4 separate regions of the Homo sapiens genome follow, and regions 2, 3 and 4 are each linked to region 1. The links come from fine-mapping of genetic effects on gene expression. A gene starts in region 1. Each other region holds a variant in brackets. All regions are shown on one strand. Distances are between the middles of the regions.

Region 1 (2,679 bases):
GAGTGAGACTCTGCCTCAAAAAAAAAAAATCTTTTGTAAAATGAGAAGGGCCTTTGCTGTACTTCTAGCCTCCAGGAGCCACTATCCCTGCCATGCTCTACCCATCCATTGGCACAAGCTACAAATGAGTAAAGACCCCAGAGATGACAGATTCAAGGGATTCTGGGTATGGGGTGTGGCCCTAGGCCCAGAACTGTATGCCTTAAGCTGGAACCAGGTACCCGCCCCCAGCATCCCCCTGACCCCCACCATGCCACCTATATCAGCATGCCAGGTCTCCAGGGAGCCTATAGTCTGAGGTGGCTAGATGGCTGGCCCGCCCTCTGCCCAGGAACCAGGGGTGGGTTGGCCCAGGGCCTGTCCCTTTCAACACGGGACCAGCGACTCGTCAGGAGTCTATCAGCAGCCTCCTGAGGCTCCACAGGTGCAGTGGGCATCAGCCTTGTCCTCTGGCCAGCCCTGGGAGGCTCACACCACTCCAGCCCAGACAGGCAGGGGCCACAGGGAAGAAGCAGTCCCACCCAAGCCTTGGTGGGGTCTCAGCTTCCAGCAAAGGGAAACAGATCCATTCCAGTCAGAGGAGCTTCACATGGAAGGGGCAGCCAAGCTGAACAAGAGATCCCCTTTGGGCCTGAACACATGGGTCCAGCCAGAATCCCAGAGTCAGGAGTCACCCCTTCCCTGCTTCCGGATACAGCATCTCTAGCCATAGTGACTCCACCCCTTGCTCACTGGGACACTCAAAGCTTAGCTAGGCTACGCCTCAGTTTCCCCATCTGTGAAGTAGGGAGGACCACAAGCCTGACCTTACAGGACAGTATGACGATGAAACATGTTGCTGAGCATAGGAAGCTTAGCAGGGGCGCTAGACATAGCTTCACTCACAGGCTTCCGCTGTGGACCCTCCAGGATACCCCAGGCCTCAGTGAGGGCTCACTGACCTTCAGGGCACACTTCTGTCCAGTGCGCCGATGGAAGCACTCCAGCACTTTGCCGTTCACACCCAGGCCCAGCACCTGCTTGGACAACTGGTAGTCGTCGGTCACTGCGTACTTCTTGGGCTCCCGCCGCCCCCCCGGAGCACCGCCCAAGCCGGGTCCGCCGGGTGCAACTGGCGGGGGCACAGGGCCCCCCTGCTCCTCTGCTGTTTCACCATCCATGGCCCCCGCGGGGCGCTCAGAGGCGGCCCCAGCCTGGCGCTTCTAGTGGCACCTGGGGGAAAGGGGAAGAGTGAGTCCCGCCCAGACTTTTCCAACACACCCCAGCCTTGGAGCCTCTGAACTGGGCTGGGCTGCGAGCCCGGGGCAAGCTGGGAGTGCGGGACGAACGGCCTGAGAGTACAGACGTGCAGCAAGGGGCGGTGGTCGCGCGGCGGGGTACAAGCGAGCACCGCCCGGGCACGTGTCAAGAAGGGAAGGGGCCGGGCGCCTAATGGCCGCGAGGTCCCCGGAGGAGGCCGCAGAGGGGGCCCAGCGAGGGCGTACCTGGCGGCAACGCACCTTGCTGAGGTACCGGCGAGGGGCAGGAGAGGCGGTCGCGGGAGCTGGCGGCCGCAGAAATCCCAGGGCCGAGAGTCGCGCTGCCGGCGCCCACGTGACCTCCCCCCCCTCCCCACCCCCCCCTCCCCCACTCCCCCACTCCACCCCCCGCTCCCTGCGCGTCATCCCAACTTGGGGCCCCGCTAGGTCAGCCTTAAAGGGCCAGGCGGGCCCCGGCTGGGTCCCGCCCCCGAGCCGGAACAAAATAGGAGGCGTGGCTTCCCGAGGGGGCGGTTACTTCCTCGGTTTCCAGGGACACCCAGGGAGGCCCCTGTACTGGCAGTCCGCTACTGTGCGGGTCCCGGGTTTTACTCGCAACCTAGAACGTGACAGCGCAGGACGTCTTATTTCTCTTGAAAGCTCTCCTTGAGTCGGGTGTTTGCTCTGCACGCTGCCAGGTGGCCCTCCAGTATGGCTTGCTAGGCTTCCGACTTGCCTAGTGTTGGCCAACCCTCAGCGTACTCAACTTTTTAAACATGCCGAGGGAGGTGGCATCTTGTCGTTGTTGAATTCGCCACTCTTTAGTCTCTGGTGGCTCTGGGAGTCTCCAGCACTGGCGACTGCCCCCTTTTTGCAGCTCCCGCTTATGCCCTTGACTCGCTGCTTCCCTTTGGTATATACAGCATCCTGGGGACCAGAAATCCCGAGTTGCCATTTGATCAGATCCGCCAACATTTCACCTTATGGTTTGGGCTTTTGGCGTCGTGTTTAAAAAGTCTCTGTCTCCCATCCGAGTGACAGATATTCTCCATTAGCTTTCTAGTTTTGCCTTGCACATATAAGTCTCTGTTAAGCCCATCTTAGACTACCTTACGTATTTTGAGCCAGTTTTCCCAACACCGGCTGTTAAGCAACTCTCATTTCACAGATGAGGAAACTGGGACCCCTGGGGAGAAAACAACTTGTCTAGAGCCATAGGGAGGGTGGCTGTGGCTGTCTTCTGGGACAGATCTGAACTACTTGCGCACATCACATCACTCCCCCAATCCGGAAGCTGAGGGACCTGAGCGAGCTGGCTCACTTGGAACTGGGAAGGTGCGGCTCAGCGCAGGGGCTCTGCATGGGCCTCTGCTGTCATCTACAGGCCATCTACAGGACTGCAGGTACCAGGACCTCGGTTCCACTCAGAGGCGTCTTCCAG
Region 2 (2,679 bases), 120 kb after region 1:
CTCCCGACCTCACTCCCTTTCCCTGCAACGTGCAGTTGGTCAGATGGCTTCTGGGCCTGCACGAGTCTCCTCTAGAAGGCCGATGTGAGAACCTGACCAGAGTAGGCACCTATCCCTCTGTCCCCAGCCAGAAGATGGCGAGGCGGGTGTGACGGCAGCGACACACTTCCAGCTGGACGCTGTTGTCGATATAGTTGGAGCTAATTTGGGGGTTTGGGACATGTCTTGCAAACTGTAATTAGAGAATGAGGGTGGGGGTGGGGTGGGGGCTGTGCCGCTCTGAGGGTCCAGGGGGAGGTGACTAATGGTACAACAACACAGAGGGTTTGCTGTGACAGCCAGTGCCCTTCAGCTGCCCTGGTCCCGCAGACGAGGATGCACATTGATCCTTGGAGGGAGGAAGGGGCCCACACATGACCATGGCCAGTGGAATTGGTGCTTTTGTTGAACTGGTAAGAAAGGTTTAGGCTGTTGTTCGGGCCAGAAGGTTCTGTGGGGCTGCTCAGGGATGGGTGACCTCCCAGAACCTTCTGCTGGGTCAGTGTGGCCAGGCTGGGATGACACTTTGATACAGGTGGATTTCCAAGGAGGAGAGTGGAACCCAGCTTCATGGCACTGGAGTGACAACCCCTCAGTGGGGAAGGCCCCTGATGAGCAAGTCATTTTCTCATTAGTGTCTGCCAGTGCACAGGGGCCCAGCTTCACAAGCTGCTGGATTTTAAGCAAGTGTGGGTTTGGGGTCTGCTAGCTATGATTTCTGCAATCGCTCTGGCAGCATGGCTCTCTGCCCACCAGGCAAAATGGACCAAGGCTGCTGCTGGATTGAGAAGGGCAGAGGGGTTACTGCTGAAGGGAGGACAGGGCTTCAGGGTTTTTTTTTGGGCGGGGGGTGGGGGGGTTGGGCTGTCTCACCTTACCTGGACCTGGATCAGAGTTTCAAACAAGGAGGAGGCTACATGTTTGCACACATGTATGCACATGTATGTGCACTTGTCCGGCTGGGTGTGGGGGACCTGAGTCCGAGCACACCTTTCACCTGCCTCCTTTTTCCAGTTATGCCCTCCCCAGCATCAGGCCACCACCGCCGGCTGAGGGGCAGCCCTCACTGCTTTGCCTCCCCTTGTGTCTTTCCCTCCCTCTTCCCCTGTCCCCCTTCTTCAGGTCTTTCATCGAGCTGTACCTATCCTTCCCTGCCCGCCTCTTTTGTCCTCTCTGCTGGGCCTCTGTGCCCTGTTCTCCAGTGCCCCCAGGTTTCTCTGTCCCCTCCTCTGTGGAGTCCTGGCTGAGTGCTGGGTGGAGCACCCGGCTGAGCTGGCCCACCTGACTGCACCCTCTTAGCCCAGCTCTGCTCCAGCGATGGTGTTGGCCAGCGTCTCCCTTCCTCTGAGGGTGGG[C/GC]AGAAGCAGTGAGGGGCCTGAGGGGTTTGGACCACCAGCAGATTAATGACAACCAGAGTACGTGCTCCTCTCCTGAGTGGACACATGGGGAGCAGTGCCTACAACAGGGCATGCGTCAGTGTAGCTACGGTTAATGGTGGGTGACGTGTGTCTGTCTGGGCCTTCCAGCCCCTGTCTCCATCTCCCTGTGGCTCTCCCTGTTGGAGGGAGGCAGCATCACTCATCTGGGTCCCCCATCTTCCCAAAAACCTGCCTCAGCTTTTGCAGGAGGGAGGGATGAGGCTTCCCAGCCGCTGCTGCTGTCACCGAGATGCAGAGCTGCCAGGTGCTCACAGCCCTCCTGGTGTGGAGGACTTTGGGGGGACCCTTGGCTGCTGTTCCCCTGGACTCCATCTTTATCAGGCACCTCCTTTTGGTCAGCTGTGCCAGGTTAACCCCTGAGAAAGGAGGAAACTCATTTTAGGATGAGTCCCCTCGTAGTCTGCAGGTGAATCTCACTCCAGATTCTTTGTCACACTCATGTCCCCATGGAGAGACTGACTCCAGAGTAAAGCTGGCCTCTAAGTGGACTTCTGCAGAAAGTATCCCCTTCTCCTCCTGCCTGTGTGCAGGTGGGCACTGCCAGCTCCTGGCATCTCAGATGTGTATGGGTGGACACTGCCAGCTCCTGGGAGGATGTAGTTTGGGGACATGCTGGGTGTCAGGTGTAGACTTTGCAGGCTCCATTGGGATGACCTTGCCTTAGTTTCCACAATTGAAATGATAGAATCTGCTTAAGAGGCTGGTGGTGAGAATTAACGGGAGAGGATGCCGCCTCTAGTGGGCAGGGAGGGCTCCGTCAGGTGCCATGGCTGCCACTGTTAACATTAGCATTAAGCCCAGATGTTGCAGCCGGGCGGTAGCCAGTCTTACTGCGAGACCCACCAGTCTCCAGGGCTCCCACGGGCTAGGTGGCCGCCTGTCTCTCTACTTTGCTCATGCTGCCCTGCCATGACTGTGCTCTTTTCTCAGGTTTAGATCCCCTCCTTCAAGGTCTCACACCCGAACCTTCCAGAGGCCTTCCCATCCCAGCTCTGGGCTGTGCCACTCTCTCAGGCTGTGCCCACCCACATCAGATTCTACCTCCTTGAGGAAGACATTGGGCCACCTCCCTCCCTCACTCCCTGCAACACAGCTTGACTGTGGTGGGGGACGTCTCCAGGCTAATGGTGATCTCCCTTACTGAGCCCAGGCCAGACCCCTCACCCACATTAGTGCCTTGACCTCAGAGCCCGTGGTCATGTCC
Region 3 (2,679 bases), 31 kb before region 1:
TGTCCACCCCTGTAGACAAAGAGTAAACCCAGGAGCCAAGAGAAAATGATGAAATGGTGTTTATTACTATCTGGATGTAAAACCCAGCAGTGTTGTCCTATCTGACATGGTCTAGGGTTTCCCAGCCAGTGAGAGAGGGGCCAGGAAGGAACTAGGCTGCGTGTCAGGCACTTGTCAGGCAGTATCAGGCACTCAGCACCCTAAGGCTACCATGGTGGGGTGGGGCTGGTAAGCTCTGATCAGCCAGGAAAGGCCCTCTCTGCCCTACTCAGGCCCAAGCCAGGACCAGACATTCTGAGCATGGCTCAGTCGCCTTCCCCAACCTCAGGTCTGACCCAGAGTAAAGAAAGAGACCTCAGGTTAATGGGAAGCCACTTAGCTCTGCTCCCAACCAGCCACTTTCACACAAGTATACCAAAAGATAGCCCCTGACTTCAACAGAGAGGGGCTTTCCTGCCTGAGATCTGGTGAGCAGATGGGTGCAGGGAAAGTATGCTGGCTTTTGTCACAGTGACATTTTCCAAAGTGGAAAAAAGTTAAAAATATCTCCCACCTTAAGTTCAGATGAAAAGTCACCCTTTGGGTCGGGAATAGTGAGGGGATGGCTAGGCCCAGGGACTCCCTCAGGGGAGAGCGCTGAGTGCCATCTGGGCTGGGGCTGCAGCAAGGCAGGGCTGGACTGCACAGGGAGGCAGGCAGACCGGATCCAGCAGCCTCAGGGCCCAAGGAGGAGTGAGAATGAGAGGGCCAGCCAGTGTGTGAGAAATCAGCCTCCCCAAGGCAGAGGTGAACCCTCAATCGCCCCTCCTCCCTTACTCGCTCACTCAGCATTCACAGGCAGCAACGTGGTCCCTGGTCACCATGGCAACCAATGGCCAATGCCTTTCTCAAGGCCAGGCCCATCTGCCCATCCCACAGGGAGATGTCTCTGTGGAAGATGGGAAGCCCAGCCACAACTCCCAGTGGCCTAGAAAGCTAAGGCCATGCACCAGGGCAGGACAGCACAGAGGCCTCACTCGGGCCAACCTAGCTAAAGGTGCTGCTATGGCAGCAGGCAGCTCCCAGCCCCTAGGCCCTGCCCATCTCTAGGGCTTGAGCCTGGGCCAGAGATCTGAAGGAGGTTTAGGGTCAGGGTCCTCCATCCTGAAGTTCCGAGTGACAAATTAAAACACAACAAAATAATCCTTT[TG/G]TTAAAAGAATGACCCTGGGCCCTCCTGGCCAGGGCCTGAGCACATTTCAGTCTGTTATGCAGGCTGAGAGGCCAGGCTCCTCCAAGGCCCCATGAGCTACTGGTTGTTGCAGCCCTGTGAGGCAGAGGAGCTGCCTGCCTGCTTTTTTCTCCTCTTGTTGAGGAGCCGGTTGTTAGAGGTCTTCAGGTCCTTGATCTTCACCTGGTCGTAGTCTACCCGCATAGTGGCCAAGGCACTGGTCATCTCCTCCTGGGGACAGACAGGATGGTGGGCACTAAGAGGTCAGGATGTACTGACCTTAGGAACCATCACCCCCCTGCCTGGGCAGCCCCTTAATGTCAGTGACAGCCTGTGCTGCCTCTGTGCCCACTGTGTGCCCAGCACTGGGCCAAGCCCTTTGCATCACATGATCCTCACTACCGTCCTCTGTGGTAGACACTGAGCTTATTCACTAAGGCACAAAAGGAGAGTTACTCCCTCGGACCACACCAAGGGTAAGTGGGATAGTGAACTAAACCAGTTCCACCACAGAACCACAAGACCTGCAGAGAATGCCATCTCGCTGGGCAACCAGCGCACTGGGGCCTGGAGATTGTGCCACTGGAGCTGCTACTCCATATGTTCAAACGTGGCCTCTGCTGGGTCTAAACCAGGCTGACCACCCTCCCAAATGTTGTTGGTTATAAGAGAGGTCATCATCCAAGCTTGGTACCAAAGCCCCGTTTCATTGAGGAAGTGAGCCAGGAGCACCACACTGAATGGCGTAGTGAGGCCCAATCCTTGGAGTGCCATGGTTGGACCACTGCGACAGTCACTGACACCCTGTGCTCCAGGTATAGAAAGGGGCCAAAGACCCCAGACCCTGGGTAGCCACCCCCCTGAAGTCCCTTTTGCCCAAATCCTGGCACCTGTATTGAGACTGAGGCAGAGCCCACCCACCTTGACTTCGTCCCAGTGGTCTTTGTCCTCCTGCAGCACTCGGGCCGTGTGGAGTGGGGTCTGTGGCACTACCATCGATTGCTGGAAGGAGCCCCACGCCCGTGGATTAGAAACTGGAGGCACCTGGGACAGCACTGGTTCCCCCTACTCCATCCTCTTCTCCCAGACTCAGATGGAAAAACCAAGGCTCAGGGTGGGGAAGGAGCCTCACTAGGGCAGTGACAAAGCCAGGTTGTAGGTGAGGCCCTAGTATCTACCTGTGTGCATGGGCCCATTCCAGCCCTGCACTGGGGCCTCAAAGCAGAGCCACCACCCTCCTGCCCGGCAGCCCCACTCCTGTTGGACACCCTGCCTGCCATGGGAGGAGGAGGGGCTCACGTTGATCCAGGGGTGGTTCATGAACTGAGTGATGGTCAGCCTCTCTGTGGGGTCTGTCTTCAACAGGAGGCGGATCAGCTGCTTGGCTAGGGGGGCCAGGGAAGAGAGGGGAGAGATGAGATTGCAGAGCCAGCCCCTCCACCCTTCCCCACAGACCACAAGCTCTGCTGGG
Region 4 (2,679 bases), 25 kb before region 1:
CTGGGGGAAGGCAGGCTGCTCATAAGTCAGTATTGCCAAGCACATGTCCCATACCCAGCCCAGAGTGAATCCTACAGGGCTAGAAGGACAGCCCCATCTGAGGTTGCTCAGGGGAGAAGGCCCTGGTTGCTCAGACCCCAGACCCCAGGAGCTGCACAGGGGCAATCTTCCTGTGTCCCAGGAGTAGCCAGGGGCCTGGCAGATGAGGGCAGTAGGGAGGTCTGTCCCTGAAACTGGTTTTTAATGAATGGTAGGTAGGATGTAGGCCCATGGAGAGGGGCAGAAGAGACCCCCAAGCAGAGCCGGGGTAGAAGGATGGGGTGTTGGTAGAAGGATGGGGTGGTGGTTTAGAACCAATGGATGCTATTTCTCAGGTTCCATTTGAGAAGATCTGACCTTCTCAATTGTGATAAAAACAGAGAAGCAGTTTTAGTCTATTCAAGGGAATCTCCTCTGCAGAAGGCTTTTCTCTCTTCGGGAAAAAAAAGCCAGGGTCCAAATAAAGCAAGGATTTACAGGTTGGGGTGCTCAGCCAGAGGGAGGACCTTATGCAGCAGCTGTAACCTCAGCTCGCCTCTGCCCAGTCTGAGGAGGAAATAAGCCAAGGAAGGTAACGTTCTAGGCTTGGGGCAGAGGGCCCAGGAGGAGCAGACTCTGCTCTGATAGTGCTCACACATGCTTGTGTGCACATGCATGTGTGTGCTGCCTTGGTTTGCATTTCATCCATCTGATCCAGATGACCTCTAAGACCCAGTCCTCCCAGGATAGGAAATTTGGAGAGCTGAGCTTCCAGCCTCAAGACTGGAAGGTGGCCCAACAACTGGCACTACCTCTGTTCCTTCCTCCAGGGCTCAGCAAATGGCTTCTTTCCCTTAAAATGCTGGTATCAGGGGGCCTGATCTGTCAAAGCTATGGCTGTGACTTCACAAAAGCCGCAACAGGGCCAGGTGGAATGGCTCACGCCTGTAATCCCAGCACTTTTCGAGGCCGAGGCGGGCGGATTACCTAAGGTCAGGAGTTCAAGACCAACCTGCCTAACATGGTGAAACCCCATCTCTACGAAAAATACAAAAATTAGCCAGGTGTGGTGGTGTGCGCCTGTAGTCCCAGCTACTTGGGAGGCTGAGGCAGGAGAAT[C/T]GCTTAAACCTGGGAGGCGGAAGCTGCAGTGAGCCGAGATTGCGCCACTGCACTCCAGCCTAGGTGACAGAGTGAGACTCTGTCTCAAAAAAACAGAACAAAATAAAACAAAACAAAAAAAACCAACAGCATCAGGCAGCCCCTGCCTGAGGCCTGGCACATTGCATCCACACAAAATTTCTTGCTGAACAAGTAAACAAATGAATGAATGAATCCCAGTGCAGCAACTACACAGCCCCTGGGCAAGTCACTTAATGTTTTTCTGAGCCTTGTTTTCCTCATCTGTAAAATGGGTAATGGCACTTATCTCACAAGGCTGGGTGAGAATGAAATGAGATTGCTTGTCAGGGCCCGCTGGCTTTAGGCAGGCAGTCAGTTATTCTTATTACTATTTGGATTACTCAGTGTTTGAAAGAAGCAAGGGGACCCACCTGGTGAGAACAGAATGAGTATGCTGAAACTAGAGAAGAGGCTGAGAAAAGCAGTCTGGGACACAGAGCAGAGGCTTTGAATGTGACTAGGGAACATGGCCTCCATCCAGTGGGTCCTGGATGCCATCAGGGATTGTGGAGTGGGACAATATCCTCTTCCCCGGGCCCCCAACCTGAATCCTGGAGCCTCACCTTGACATCTCGGTGGGCAATGTTATGGCTGTGCAGAAACTGGATGGCAGTGCCAATATCCCGCATTATCTCTGCAGCTTCTGCAGAAACAGAGGAGGAGGGGGTCAGTGATGCCAGTCAAAGGTCAAGCCCCCACCCTATCATCCCTCCTGGACACAGTCTAACAGGCCAGCACAAGACAAGAAGACAGTGACAGCACTCCTGCTATCCAGGTTCTCTATCCCGGGATGTCTACGCCACCCCAGACACCCCAGTTTCCTCCGAGGATACCCCCAACCCATCTAAACTTCTTTCCTCAGTCCTGAGCTACCTCTCCCCAGCTCAACTGCGAGACAGCATCAAGAGGCTTTGAGGCCTCCATCCCAAAGCCATAGAGAGTCCAAGTTCGACAAAGTGTCTCAGACTCAGAGAGTCCCTTGTGGGGATGGACACTGAGTCTCACCCTTTCTTATTCAGATGGGAAGACTGAGAGGAACAGGGTCTTGCCTAGCATCACACACAACGCTCTGGTCCATACCTCTCACCCTGAATCCTCCTGCTGGTCCAGCTACATGCACATACCTCTCTCAGTGAAAGCCTGGTCGCCACGCTCCTGAATCCTGCTGAACAACTCACCACCTTCCATGCTGTAAAAGAGGTGACTATAAGCAGAGAGGGGGAAACTGCACATCATCCTACCCTTGCCCCTGCCCCAAATCATAGGCCCAGGCTTCAGACCCTGCTGCTCCGCTCCTCCCCTACTGAACAGCCACTGTCAGCCTCCCTGTCCCTTGTAGAACCTGGTGCATGGTGGGTTGTCAGCTTAGGTGGGTTGAACTGAACTCTTGGAACTAGAAGAGGGTGGTGGGCTCTGATCCCTGCCAAGAAGCCTGTGTGTTCCCAGTGGCACGGCCCCTACCTGACTGTGAGGGCTTGGGTA

Alleles and levels. Alleles are on the strand shown, and positions count from the first base shown. SD is a standard deviation of normalised expression in the study named. Not every link is listed here.
For the expression in monocytes of the gene that starts at base 1,575 in region 1, C is the high allele of the variant in region 2 and GC is the other (moderate effect, 0.72 SD a copy in Schmiedel 2018).

Evidence for each region. PIP is the estimated chance that this variant, and not a neighbour inherited with it, causes the effect.
Region 2: its variant is the best candidate, but not a certain one, in a credible set for the expression of MAPKAPK3 in monocytes (Schmiedel 2018, PIP 0.59).
Region 3: its variant is the best candidate, but not a certain one, in a credible set for the expression of MAPKAPK3 in whole blood (INTERVAL, PIP 0.53).
Region 4: its variant is the best candidate, but not a certain one, in a credible set for the expression of MAPKAPK3 in whole blood (TOPMed, PIP 0.90).

The regions. Positions count from the first base shown.
Region 1 is chr3:50,616,047-50,618,725 of GRCh38, reverse strand. It overlaps MAPKAPK3 (MAPK activated protein kinase 3), which reads right to left and starts at 1,575. Exons shown (of 11, transcript NM_001243925.2): 1 at 1,485-1,575; 2 at 942-1,212. The coding sequence starts at 1,160. RefSeq lists enhancers at 1-901, 902-1,855 and silencers at 1,122-1,271, 1,522-1,571, 1,582-1,631.
Region 2 is chr3:50,498,967-50,501,645 of GRCh38, reverse strand. The region is part of intron 1 of CACNA2D2 (calcium voltage-gated channel auxiliary subunit alpha2delta 2); the gene reads left to right. Among named protein-coding and RNA genes, the nearest start is that of CACNA2D2, 3.3 kb to the left of the region's middle. The variant C/GC (reference allele first, on the strand shown) is at 1,395.
Region 3 is chr3:50,646,654-50,649,332 of GRCh38, reverse strand. MAPKAPK3 (MAPK activated protein kinase 3) reads right to left here. Exons shown (of 11, transcript NM_001243925.2): 9 at 2,508-2,593; 10 at 2,130-2,210; 11 at 42-1,439. The coding sequence ends at 1,287. Among named protein-coding and RNA genes, the nearest start is that of LINC02019, 21 kb to the left of the region's middle. RefSeq lists enhancers at 1-264, 1,756-2,255. The variant TG/G (reference allele first, on the strand shown) is at 1,189.
Region 4 is chr3:50,641,414-50,644,092 of GRCh38, reverse strand. MAPKAPK3 (MAPK activated protein kinase 3) reads right to left here. Exons shown (of 11, transcript NM_001243925.2): 4 at 2,322-2,386; 5 at 1,761-1,840. Among named protein-coding and RNA genes, the nearest start is that of MAPKAPK3, 26 kb to the right of the region's middle. The variant C/T (reference allele first, on the strand shown) is at 1,138.